Homo sapiens: one gene and its partners. The protein of the gene in region 1 purifies or fractionates together with the protein of each later gene. This does not show direct contact. Each region holds a gene or a part of one and is shown on either strand. Other genes may lie near its edges.

What was found. Proteins that work in one complex are often made in the same cells at the same time.
Region 2: the proteins of ACACB (region 1) and PPM1H purify together in Homo sapiens (co-immunoprecipitation; one study listed by IntAct). This does not show direct contact.
Region 3: the proteins of ACACB (region 1) and IDS purify together in Homo sapiens (affinity purification with mass spectrometry; one large-scale study listed by BioGRID and IntAct). This does not show direct contact.
Region 4: the proteins of ACACB (region 1) and GRK7 purify together in Homo sapiens (affinity purification with mass spectrometry; one large-scale study listed by BioGRID and IntAct). This does not show direct contact.

Annotation. Positions count from the first base shown.
Region 1 is NC_000012.12:109,245,587-109,249,086, forward strand, and holds part of ACACB (acetyl-CoA carboxylase 2), read left to right. Parts: intron 1-39; coding exon 40-162; intron 163-592; coding exon 593-862; intron 863-2,019; coding exon 2,020-2,117; intron 2,118-3,500. UniProt on the Homo sapiens protein: Mitochondrial enzyme that catalyzes the carboxylation of acetyl-CoA to malonyl-CoA and plays a central role in fatty acid metabolism.
Region 2 is NC_000012.12:62,645,151-62,648,650, reverse strand, and holds part of PPM1H (protein phosphatase 1H), read left to right. Parts: intron 1-14; coding exon 15-162; 3' UTR 163-3,500. UniProt on the Homo sapiens protein: Dephosphorylates CDKN1B at 'Thr-187', thus removing a signal for proteasomal degradation.
Region 3 is NC_000023.11:149,488,307-149,491,806, reverse strand, and holds part of IDS (iduronate 2-sulfatase isoform a preproprotein), read left to right. Parts: intron 1-139; exon of another isoform or gene 140-269; intron 270-1,366; coding exon 1,367-1,493; intron 1,494-3,500. UniProt on the Homo sapiens protein: Lysosomal enzyme involved in the degradation pathway of dermatan sulfate and heparan sulfate.
Region 4 is NC_000003.12:141,817,630-141,819,852, forward strand, and holds the end of GRK7 (rhodopsin kinase GRK7), read left to right. Parts: 3' UTR 1-1,723; downstream 1,724-2,223. UniProt on the Homo sapiens protein: Retina-specific kinase involved in the shutoff of the photoresponse and adaptation to changing light conditions via cone opsin phosphorylation, including rhodopsin (RHO).

The DNA.
Region 1 (3,500 bases):
ATGACTTCAAGTTTTTTCTCTTTCCTCTTCTCTCCCCAGGCTCTCTTTAAACTGTGGGGCTCCCCAGACAAGTATCCCAAAGACATCCTGACATACACTGAATTAGTGTTGGACTCTCAGGGCCAGCTGGTGGAGATGAACCGACTTCCTGGTGGAAATGAGGTAATAGCTCAGCGGAGCCTAACCCCTGGCTGGAGTCACCCCCTTAAAAATATTTTTGGGCCAGGTGCAGTAGCTCACACCTGTAATCCCAGTGCTTTGGGAGGCCAAGGTGGGTGGATCACTTGAGGTCAGAAGTTCAAGACCAGCCTGGGCTACATGGTGAGAACCTGTCTCTACATAAAATTTTAAAATTAGCTGTGTGTGGTGGTGTGCTCCTATAGTCCCAGCTACTCGAGAGACTGAGGCAGGAGTGATTGCTTAAGCCCAGAAAGTTGAGGCTGCAATGAGCTGTGATTGCACCACTGCACTCTGGCCTGCGCAACAGAGCAAGACCCTGTATCTAAAAAAAATAATAATAACTAAAATAAAATAAAAAGTTTTCCCCCAAAGAAACAAACTCATTTTCCTTGTGCATTCATCCCCTTGCCAGGTGGGCATGGTGGCCTTCAAAATGAGGTTTAAGACCCAGGAGTACCCGGAAGGACGGGATGTGATCGTCATCGGCAATGACATCACCTTTCGCATTGGATCCTTTGGCCCTGGAGAGGACCTTCTGTACCTGCGGGCATCCGAGATGGCCCGGGCAGAGGGCATTCCCAAAATTTACGTGGCAGCCAACAGTGGCGCCCGTATTGGCATGGCAGAGGAGATCAAACACATGTTCCACGTGGCTTGGGTGGACCCAGAAGACCCCCACAAAGTACGTCGTGAAACTGGCGGGGCAGGGTGATTCTGCTCAGCTACTACTGTATTTTCAGTGGGAGTGCTAGCACCTGCAAGAGGTGAAAAAAATCTCACTTATGTATAAAGCACAGATGTACATGTAGTGTATAAACAGGCATACAGTGTATCAGTGATACTAACATTTCACTGTGGCGGGGGGGATGGTGATGAGAAAAAAAAGATCTAAAAAGGCTCCTTAACGGGGATAATGAAAAAAGTCTATAAACCCTGAGCTGATATACACTGAGCGCTCCTGAATGCAGTGTGCACTGAGAATGCAGAGGTGATTGTGTCAACTCCCTGGCCTCATAGCGTTCTTAGAATTATGGCTCACACCTGTCATCCCAGCAACTCAGGAGGCTTGGGTGGGAGGATAGCTTGAAGCCAGGAATTCATGACCAAGCTAGGTAACCTAGGCAGCATAGCCAGACTTCGTCTCTACTAATGAAAAAACTAGGTGAGCATGATGGTGCCTGCCTGTAGTCAGCCTCAGCTACTTGGGAAGTTGAAGTGGGAGGATCACTTGGAGCCCAGGAGTTCAAGGCTGCAGTGAGCCATGATCATCATACCACTGCACTCCAGACTGGGCAACTGAGTGAGACCCCCCATCTCAAAAAAAAAGAAAAATCTTTGGGGAGTTGTATAGATACCAGCTTGCCATAAAAGGCAAGATGAATGAGGGAAGCGCACGCATTCTGTGATGTGAAATGACAGGGGACAGTCATCCTTTCCATTCAGAGCATGCATTCTCGGGGGCGATATTGCCCACTACCCCCAAGAAGACAGAAAAATAATTTTTGGGGTGGCAATAAAATAGTTTTTAACATATATACATATACAGAGTATGTAAATAGTGGTTAAACAGTGTATCTTGAAAATTAAAATTTCATGTTGGGGTGCTGGCAATAAGAAATAAAAATGAGATAGTCCTTAGAGGAGAGCTTAGCTCAAAGCAGAACTTCAGTTTATGGCTGTTATTAATACGGTATTTACATGAGATGTGTTAATGTGTCATTGACATGTTACTAACATGTTATTAACATCCATCCCTACGATGTTCACATTAAGAAAAAAAAAACAGTGGCTTTCAGTGCAGGGAACTGGATTCGTAGCCTCACTAAAGTATTTTTTAAGGGATTTAAATACCTGTACCTGACTCCCCAAGACTACACCAGAATCAGCTCCCTGAACTCCGTCCACTGTAAACACATCGAGGAAGGAGGAGAGTCCAGGTAAATAACTTATCAGGTAGCTCCTTAATTTTGCTCATGGTTAATTTCAGCTGTCTTCTTTCCTCGGGGCTTGTGGCGATATTTTCCAGTGGGGTGGTGGTGTTTGTATGATGGGAACCAATGCCTGTTGGGGGCACTGATGCCTTAAACATTTGTTAAACTCTCCAAGGTGAGTCCATCCTTGTCATTCTAAAATGAGTGACTCCTTTCACAAAAAATAGCACGTCATGTAGGGAGAATGAGATTGGATTCTCGTGAATCTCCTAGGAGCCGCAGGCTCACATTTTGTGACCAAACTGATGCAGCGGTGACTTGGCAAACTGGGAAGGTATGGGTGGGGCAGAGAGAGGTCTGTTCTTCGAGAGCATTCAAAGGCTACTATCTTTTCCAGGACAAGTTATGTTTTTCTCAGTGGGATTAACTGACTCAGGATTTCCTAGACTGGGTTTTTTGCAATGTTAGTGACAAGCTGGGGGGAAATTCCATAGTCAGATGAGTTTGGGAAACACTGGGTTAAATGAGATCTCATAAACATCTTTATTGCAGACCTTCTTAGTACCTGTAGCATGCTGTATTAGTCAGCGTTCTCCAGAGGGACAGGACTAGTAGGATATATGTATATATGAAAGGGACTTTATTAAGGAGAATTGACTCACATGATCATAAGGTGAAGTCCCATGATAGGCTGTCTGCAAGCTGAGGAGCAAGGAAGCCAGTAGTGGCTCGGTCTGAGTCTAAAAGCCTCAAAAGTAGGGAAGCCAATAGTGCAGCCTTCAGTGGCCAAAGGCCTGAGGGCCCCTGGCAAACCACTGGCGTGAGTCCAAGAGTCCAAAGGCCGAAGAACCTGGAGTCTGATGTTTGAGGGCAGGAAGCTTCCAGCATGTGAGAAAGATGAAAGCCAGAAGACTCAGCAAGGCAGCTTACTCCACCTTCTTTCACCTGCTTTTTCTAGCCGCGCTGGCAGCTGGATGACTGGATGGTGCGCACCCACATTGAGGATGGGTCTTCCTCTCCCAGTCCACTGACTCAAATGTTAATCTCCTCTAGCAACACCCTCAAAGACACACCCAGAAACAGTACTTTGCATCCTAAAGTTGACACTTAATATTAACCATCACACATGCTAAAGTGCATTGTGAATCTCTAACAGAGGCTGGCGGGACAGTGTTTCTCATTATGTGGCCCTGGAATTTTTGATTGATTGATTGTGAATGGGTTTCCTCTGTGTACCCCCATCTCTCTGTAGACCGTTGGAGGAATATGGGCCGAGGGTGATATTTCACTGAGACAGCCCCTGAACAGGCAGATATCTTTGGTTGTATAAACCAAAAAGTATCTGAGACAGGTCTCAATCAATTGAGAAGTTTATTTTGCCAAGGTTAG
Region 2 (3,500 bases), about 47 Mb from region 1:
GTTCTCCTGTGTAGGTACACACTGGCAGCTCAGGACCTGGTGATGCGTGCCCGGGGTGTGCTGAAGGACAGAGGATGGCGGATATCTAATGACCGACTGGGCTCAGGAGACGACATTTCTGTATATGTCATTCCTTTAATACATGGAAACAAGCTGTCATGAAAATGGCCCAGGGGATTGGGAGGACAGAGGGGAAGAAAGCTGGGATGCCTCTTGGCAGGACGGAACTGGGAAGTGCCCCAGCTGAGTTCCAAGTGATGCAGTCTCTTCCCAGCCCAAGCGGGGAGTTCATGGCCAAAAGACTATGCTTCAAGATGACCCTTTGGTTTCCATTTCTTCTTTAGTAACAGGTCAACTCAACAAGAGCAAAACACAAAGGCTGCTACCAAGTGTTGTTGTATTTCAGTTCCTTTCATAGGCCTCCGAGGTGGCCATTGACTATTTGGGGTATATATGTCATATTTATTTTATCTAGAGTAGCTGGGGCAGCCATTTTCAGGTGTAAATGGCAGAGGACTCTTCAGCCTGTCAAGCTGCCAGCTTATCTACGGGTTAAAAAGTGCTGCATTGGAAAGTAGGGGGTCATGCCTCAAAATGTAAGTAAGTGCCCACCTTCTAGGAAGCCTGAGGTTTATTTCAGGGATTGCCGTCTGCCCCCCGCCCCCCTTCTCTTTTTTTCTTCTCTGTTTCTATTCTTTTATGGCAGTGGTGGAGTGAGGCAGGGATTTTTTTTTTTTTTTTTCGTGTTTTTGACATTCCTTGAATCTGTTTTTTATTCCCCTTCCACAGAACAGGCCTGGGACTTTCCAACACCCTGCTAAGGAAGTTCTGTGTCCAAGTCCCACCCAGGCTGGGTTGTCCCCACCTCCTCCAGCCCACACAGCCCAGGCAGCATCCGGGCCAGTGCCCTGCATGACAGAGGGTCTTTGTTGTGTAATGTTTGTTCCCAAGTTGCATTTTCTAACCGAATCAGTGTGTTTTCATGAAACTGAGTGTTTCTGTGGACCAGTAGTTCCTCTGTTGTCTTCAGTGGTCTTCCTGTGTGGCTCAAGGGTTCTCTGTGAGAGTCTGGATTTTCATTTCTGGAATGGCTGGCCCCATCCCACTTTTCTGTATCATGGGGACACATATAAAGCAGTGTTTAATAGAGCAGTTTAAGAAGTTGCTTGCATCTGTTGGTTCACCATGGCTCATCTGGGGACCATTTTGGATTCATGTTTCATGGCTTGTGACTGTCCCCAAGCCCACTCCAAACAAAGTGTAAGGATCAGAGTTCTGTCAAGGAGCAGCAGTTCTGCTCTCCCCATCATCTTTGTGCAAGGCCCCTCGGGGGGCACTTTAATAAAAGAATTTGAAATGGGTTGACTGGCCATTCTCATGCTGTGCTCCCTGTCTCTTCTCTTCTCTAAAGAATCATGTCCCAGCTCCTCAAGGTCCCTCTATGGTTCCACATCTGAGTGTTCGCCACAAGAGCAGCAGCAGCAGGCACAGTGCATGCCATATCTACCTGCTGCTTCTCTGCTGGGAGGAATGGCCAAGTAGATTATAAAACTCACTTCTGTCTCTTAGGCAGACTTGTACGGCCACAAAATTACCTAGTCTTCTTCCTGCTGAGCTACTGAGGTATTGCCACCATTTTGACAACTTTGAGTAATTAAAACACTCTTCTGACCCAAAAAGGAAAAAAGGTCACTGACGTGACCCCCCCAGCATGCTAGAGAGCTAATTCCAGTTCTCATATTTGTTTGAATTTCTTCCCAGAGGAGAGGATAGGAACCTCTCCTCCAGGGCAGTAAATCACCTGCATTTCTGGAGTTGTCGGTATTGTATTCGAAAAGGCCTGGAGCCCCTCCTGCTCAGGAAAGAACTCATTCCAGGGTGTGGAGACAGTGCCGTCTGGCAGGTGAAATACTGTGGGAATTCACGCCACCAGGTGTTTGTGCAAGTGTTGGCCTGGGAAGAATGGGACTTCGGCCTTGTCAGGAGTTGTCTTCATCTGCAGCACGTTTCTTCCTCCTGCAGTAGATCTTAGCTACCCCAGATATCTCTATGGAGAGAAGTTTGTGGAAAATGCTTTGCTTCGTGGCAGAGTCTGATGCTGTAGGAAAACCTTCGGGCATGTGACAGCAGTGTGGTCCACTCCCTGTTCTGCCCTGGCACTCAGAGTCATGTGTAAGTAGGAAACCTGAGCAAGTCTTCCGTGGAGGACCCTGAGCTGCCGTCTTTGGGATCCTTCCTGTGTCCCCACCGTCTTTCATTTATTTGCTTTCCTGGGCCTCTATCTGGGCCCTACCTTGAGCTTCTCCAGTTTTATTCAAGCCACCAGAGTAAGAATTTGGGTGTAGATGTCACAACTACCTTCTACTCAATTCACCAATTCATTTACTGCTATGGCACGTCTCAGGAATAACTCTAGAAACCTCTAAATCGAAATATTATAAAATCTTGAGCACTTAGTCCTGCTGGTTTTAGTTAGAAAGGCATCCAGGAATTGTTTTCCTACGCCCCCTTGAGTGGAAAGATCTTAGTTAGAAGATAAAGTCAAGTTTGTGTTCAGGGGATGGGAGGAAGACTATAAATAAGATGAAGAAATCAAAAGTAGGAAACATGATGTAAACGAAGCATGGCAGATCTGTCCAGCACTGATATTGCTCTATAAATTGAGCTTACTCAGTTTTGGCCTTATTTTTTTACCCAGGCCCCATGTCACCCAGTCCTAAAACAGTAACCGTGTCTACATAACGGGTTGGCCCCTGGTGCATCCCTGGAAAAGTCAAAGGACGCACACTTCGAAATTCTGCAGAACGTATTTATACATGGTTCAGAAATCTTGCGTATCTGACTTATAGCCAAATCTGCTTGCTCGAATAGCCTCAGAGGAAGTCTTGTTTAATAAAAACCTTTTGATTTCCTAGTCAAGTCTTTATGGTTGTCTCGAGGGGTGTGTGGCTACTTTAATGAAAGGCTTTCCTGCTCTAAATCTCTTTGCTGGGCTGGGCCTCTTCAGACTATCTGGTGAAACTCCTTTCCTTAGAACAAACTCAGTCCGTCCATGCTCTGTGGCATTTTGCTAGATGATAACCAAAGCCTTATTCCTGTAGCCAGTGTCAGCAGTCAGAGAGGTGGAGGGTGTGTTCTGCTGTGGTTATGCATACCTATCTGCTGTTCTTGAGGTGTAAAAGGAAAGGTGAAAATCGGGCCAGGCCAAGTACTCAGCTGTCTTAATAGGATGAAGCCTTAAGCAGTGGAAATTTCAGTTATTTTCCACAGTATTCCATTTTGGAGGATTTGGGGTGTTTACTTTTTAAATTCTTGAACAACTTAACCTCCATGAGGCTTTGTGAAGTCAGCTGTGACCACCCTCCTCTTACTGTGTTCTCAGTATTCATTCACTTCCAGGGAAGAATGACAGCCACAGGGAGATGGTGGTGGGCAAGAATGAGAGTCCCAGGATCCAGATTTAGCCTCAGATCTTCCCCATTCAGGAAGGGTTTTCCATT
Region 3 (3,500 bases), on another chromosome or scaffold:
GTGTCCTCACTGGATGGGGTGGCTCATCAAGGGTGAGGACCTTGTCTGCTTATTGCCTTACGTCCAGGGGCTAGCATAGGAAGGAGGGAATACCTTTGTATAGGACATAGCCATCCTGACAGGTGTCTTTCATCCCCAGGAGGACCAAAGTTCCACAGGTTTCAGACTGAAGACTTCATCTACCAGAAAGTATAAGTAGGCCAGGGCTCAGCATAATCCTGCTGGAAGGCTAGATGTATATCTTTTCTCTTGACTGCAAGTGAGAACGGGTGAGTCTCATGATTGTCCTCACCCTGGCAGTGATGAGAAGAAGCTGGTGGGTCCAGCTGATAAGTCAGGGGCTGGTCTGCGAAGACACGGCTCTCTTCTCACCCCTCTTTGGGGTGGAAGATTAATTTTTGTCCTTAGCATTTGTGAACCAGGTTGGGAATGAGAGTCAGCCCAGGAGGGGCCGGTGGCTCATTTACTTCAGGGCATGATCTGGCTGTTCCCAAAGTGCCTCTTGGGTTCAGGGACTGTGAAGGACGTGCTGCTCTCTGGTATCTCCTTTGCTCTTCTCCTGCCTGCTGACAGTTTGTTAGAAATGAGCTCCACGTAACGGCCATAGTTCATGAAGATATGCAGTTGTAATCTGCTGTTGGGTTAGCAAGTGATCAGAGGGAAAGGCTCAGTCAGGGTTGCTGTTATGTGTTAAATTATGAATTTTTTTTTCCCTGAAAAGGGCTGTTGACATCCTAACCCCCCAGTACTGCTGAATGTAACCATATTTGGAAATAGGTTTATTGCAGATGTAATTAGTTAAGATCAGGTCATATTGGAGTAAGGTGGGCTCCTAATCCAATATGATCGGTGTCCTTTAAGAAGAGGGGAGAGAGACACGGGAAGAACACATGAAGATGGAGACACAGTGATACAGCTGCAAGCTGAGGAATGCCAGGGACTGACAGCCACCACCACCAGCTAGGGAGAGGCAAGATTCTTCTACTTAGAGCCTTCAGGGAGAGAATGGCCCTCCCAGCACCTTGATCTTGGACTTCTAGCCTCCAGAGCTAGGAGACAATACATTTCAGCTTAAAACAACAGAGCAGTAGGTGACACATTCATCCACTGTGATCTGTGCCCTAAAGTGAAATCTGATTTGCTTAGAAATGTATCTTATTTGTAGACCTACAGATTTTGCTGTGACTCTGTGGGTGAAGTGATGCTGATGGTAGGGAAAGGAGTGTTACATTTTGGCTGAGAAAATCATTAAGGGCATCAACTAAGGGGTAGGGATTGGGAGAGATGCACAGGCAAGCATTATCTCTGTATGCCTTGGCAATTTAAATTGCAGTCACTCTCATTTTTATTTTTTTTCAATTTGCAGCGGAAAATCCGCCAGAGCTACTTTGCCTCTGTGTCATATTTGGATACACAGGTCGGCCGCCTCTTGAGTGCTTTGGACGATCTTCAGCTGGCCAACAGCACCATCATTGCATTTACCTCGGATCATGGTAAGCATTTTGAAATTCCCTGGTGAGTCAAAACATCTGAACTTTCCTGTGAAACATGCTTTGCAAAATTGCCATTGACATAAACATGGGTGTGTTCTCTTTTGTGAACCAGTGGTTCACAAACAAAGTGGGATCCTGGGGCATTTTTATGATCAGCTTGTTAGTCCTGAGACCTCTGTCTTAGATGCTTGACGGATAGGTGTGGGTGGGTGGGGGAGGGTCTTGCAGCAACTTTTTTTTTTTTCTTGATGAATGCAGCAGGAACCCTCCATTTGTGTGGCAGAGCTCTTGTAACCCCCATTTTTAACCTGGAGGGTTGGAGGACTTTTAGTTTGGGTGGAGAGGATCCAGAACAATCCTGGCAGAGCCCAGCAAGCTCTTCACGCCTGGCTCCAGCCCTCCCACCCCTATCCCCGCTGTCTTCTCTGCCGAGAGCCTGGGCTTTTCAAGTCTTTATCTCCCCCTAAGGCTGTTTCCTACTTTTCCAAAAATGAAACTATCTTTTTAAAAGCATTTTTTAAATTCTTCAACATTCCAAGAGCAGGGAATAAAACAGCAGCTCCCCCCGTTTCCCACTCACATAGTCTTGTTCCTCTCATCCTCACCCACTCCCCCATCTCTGAATTGTTTCGAAGCAAATCCCAGATGGTTCCATTTTCCGATCACTGTCTCTGAAAAATATTGCCTCTTTTGAAGTATAACCATAATACTGTTATACTTAGAGAAAGGAAAATAATTTTCATATCATCAAATATGAAATAGGATAATAGTAAATCATAACATGTGCTTATCATGAAAAGAAAAAAGGATACAGAGCATGTAATTCAGGGCCAGAACATCCTGCCCTTTTCTCCCACCTGCTCAGGGCTAACAGATGACAATGGATTAGGGATCCATCTGCCAGCCATCAGTTGTGCACATATGCACACAGGGATATATGTTATACATGTGTATGTTTGTAACATGTATGTCACAAGATGTGATTGCTTGTTCTGTGTGTACTGTTAACGTTCCCTGGTTTTGTACACTTAATGTCATAGGCAATCTCTGTGTCATTTCTCAGAAGCCTACCTTTTCCCTTAGAAATGTCTGTAATATTTTATTATATATGGAGGTGCCATAATTTTTCACATATTCCTGATTATCTGCCATCTGCTTCTGAGCCCTCGGTGCCCAGTTTCCTCTTCTCCACGAACACACTCTGTTGTGAGGCAGTTGCCGTAGATTACAAATAGCCCATCTCAGAGTCCCCTCCTGGGACATCCTCCATCAGAACCGCCTGGGAGCCAGTAAAACATGCTGGTTTCTGCAACTGGTCTCAGGAGCTCGCAGTTCTGGGCATGGGAAAGTGCACTTTAACAGGTGTCTCAGGTGGTCTGGCCACCTCTCCCTGAGCTCATCATTCCCTGGGCCTCCCTATGTTGCCACGTCCTCATCTTGGGCCTCTGGGGCAGGAGCCAGAAACCTCCTGAGCTGCCTGTCAAGGTCATCGGGCTTGTTCCTCCTGATCTGGAGATGGATCCTTGGGGCCCACACAGGCACGCGTTCTCCTTAGCCAGACTTCCCCGTATTTGCTCCTGGCTGCAGCAGCACAGGCTGAGGCCCGGCACCAGATGTTCAATACGATCTTGCAGTCAGGCGGTCCACAGCTATTTCTGTAGCATTTGCCATGTGTCAGACCCTGTGCCAGGCCTGGGGGCCCCCTCTGCCTGGTGCAGGGCAGCTCACAAAAGCTGGCAGAGGCCGAAGGCTGCGTGCCAGTATTCAGAATGCCACAGAGCGCCTGGCTGCTGTACCTTCAGAGCCTCCACAGGCACCCCAGTCAGAGTTCCGGGAGTGGATTCCTGAGGTCGCACTGCCAGGTTCCCTCACGTTGCCATCCTGCAGGCTTCTCGATCCTTGACCTTTTAGATTCCCGCCACACTGAATCTAAAAGGGACAATGTGACCTCTAAGCTGGTGGCCTAGGAGCCTGCCGATAACCTACCCATTCATCAGCCCTCGTGGG
Region 4 (2,223 bases), on another chromosome or scaffold:
TATCATAATGTTGAAGCATTTTAAACATAAACATCCATGACATCTGTGAATTAAAGCATTCTGTAAATTTAGTTGAGTCCTTTAAGTAATATGGTACAAATTGCTTCAACTTGCACTACCATATGCCATCGGTTCCCAAACTCTGCTGAACTTTGGAATCATCTAGGGATCTTTTAAAAAACTAATGCCTGATTCCCATCCATAGACATTCTGATCCCCACTCCCAGGTATGAGAACAGCTTGACCATTTAGAATTTCAGAAGCTCCCCAGGTGATTCTAATGTGCAGCAGAGTTTGGCAGGCACTGCTGTGCACATTTGAATGTTATTACATTCAATCTTATTTTGGTTGCTCAAAACTTCAATCATACATTTTGATGGCAACTTTTCAAATGTCCCCAAAGCATGTCATTTTAGTAATTGCAGTATAAATGAAACAAGACAGTCTATTCATCTTATGGCTTCTCTTGTCCTTGCACACTTTAGTTTCTCACACGTATCTTGGGAGCTCGGTCTCTTGGCTATTTCAAGTCCTGAAGGAGACCTATGGGCTTAGAAATTGAGTTGAACAGGCCAGGTGCGGTGGCTCATGCCTGCAATTCCAGCACTTTGGGAGGCCAAGGCAGATGGATCATGAGGTCAGGGGCTCAAGACTAGCCTGGCCAACATGTTGTAAACCCCGTCTCTACTAAAAATACAAAAATTAGCCCGGTGTGGTGGTGCACATCTATAATCCCAGTTACCCGGGAGCCTGAGGCAGGAGAATTGCTTGAACCCAGGAGGCGGAGGTTGTAGTGAGCCAAGATCGCAACATTGCACTCCAGGCTGGGCAGCAAGAGCAAGACTCTATCTCAAAAAAAAACAAAACAAAACAAAACAAAAAAAACAGAAAAGAAATTGAATTGAAAAAATACTAACCATCATTTCAAGTGGCTGCCCAGCCAACACTGTATGGTAGAATTAGCACTTCTCAAAAGCACAGCCAAGGTGAGAATTCTACAGCTGCGAAAAAATATTTGGGATACAAATATAAAGCTGAGTGATATTTTTTAAAAGGATGTATGTGCACATAATAAAATCTAAATTTATCCCAGTGGTAAAAAAAACCTGGCTGAAGTCAGTTTAAAAGTTTTGTCCCTTGAGTTAAGGATTCAAGAGCTGCAAAAGTGCCGGTCAAAAAAATGTTGGTTAACTGGAATCTGAATAACAGTAATACTCATCTACAAGACAGCATTAACCACACCTGGAACAAGTTAAGAAGAAGCCCTCTGAGAGTTGAGGCCTCGGCCGGTGCACCTGCGGCTCACTTTCCCGCTCCTCCTCCATCCTCAGCATGCTCCCTAATGCTCCAAATCCTAACCTAGGATGCTTAGATTTCTGTGTCACCAAAGCAGGATAGAAGTGTGCCCAGGAGATTTTTTTTTTTCCTGAAGTAAGAAAGTAAATTAAAGTTTGGTTAAGTTTTGAACAAGTCCCTTTTAACAAAAAAACTGATTGGTGATTAACAGAAATCCAATTAACCAGAGCACTCCAATGGTAGAGTTCTCAGGATTGGGCTTTATAGACGTTAGACATTTAAAAACAACATTGGTTATTTGTTGATTATGCCTTAAAGCTGGCAGAGGGACAAATGCAAACTAATAATTAAAGATAAATATCTCAGTTTTTAAAAGGACAAAAAATTTGGAGAGATAAAAAAATAAAAATGTCTTGTTGCATTGGTTCCTTAGTGTGAATTGCCTCTGCTTTCAATAAACTTTAAATGCAAATCTGTTTTATATCTTAGAACTAACTTAGGAAAATAACTGAATAAGTAGTTGTATTAATCCATTCTCACACTGCTATAAAGAAATACCTGAGGCTGGGCATGGTGGCTCACGCCTGCAATCCCAGCACTTTGGGAGTCCAAGGCAGGCAGATCACCTGAGATTAGGAGTTTGAGACCAGCCTGGCCAACATGGTAAAATCCTGTCTCCACTAAAAATATACAAATTAGCCAGGTGTGGTGGTGTGTGCCTATAATCCCAGCTACTAGGAAGGCTGAGACAGGAGGATTGCTTCAACCTGGGAGGAGGAGGTTGCAGTGAGCCGAGATTCAGCCACTGGACTCCAGCCTGGGTGACAGAGCAAGGCTCTGTCTCAGAAAAAAAAAAAAAAAAAAGATTAATCCTAGTTGTCCTGGAGGACTTGGAGCCACTGTCTGTTGGACTTACTTCACCCATAC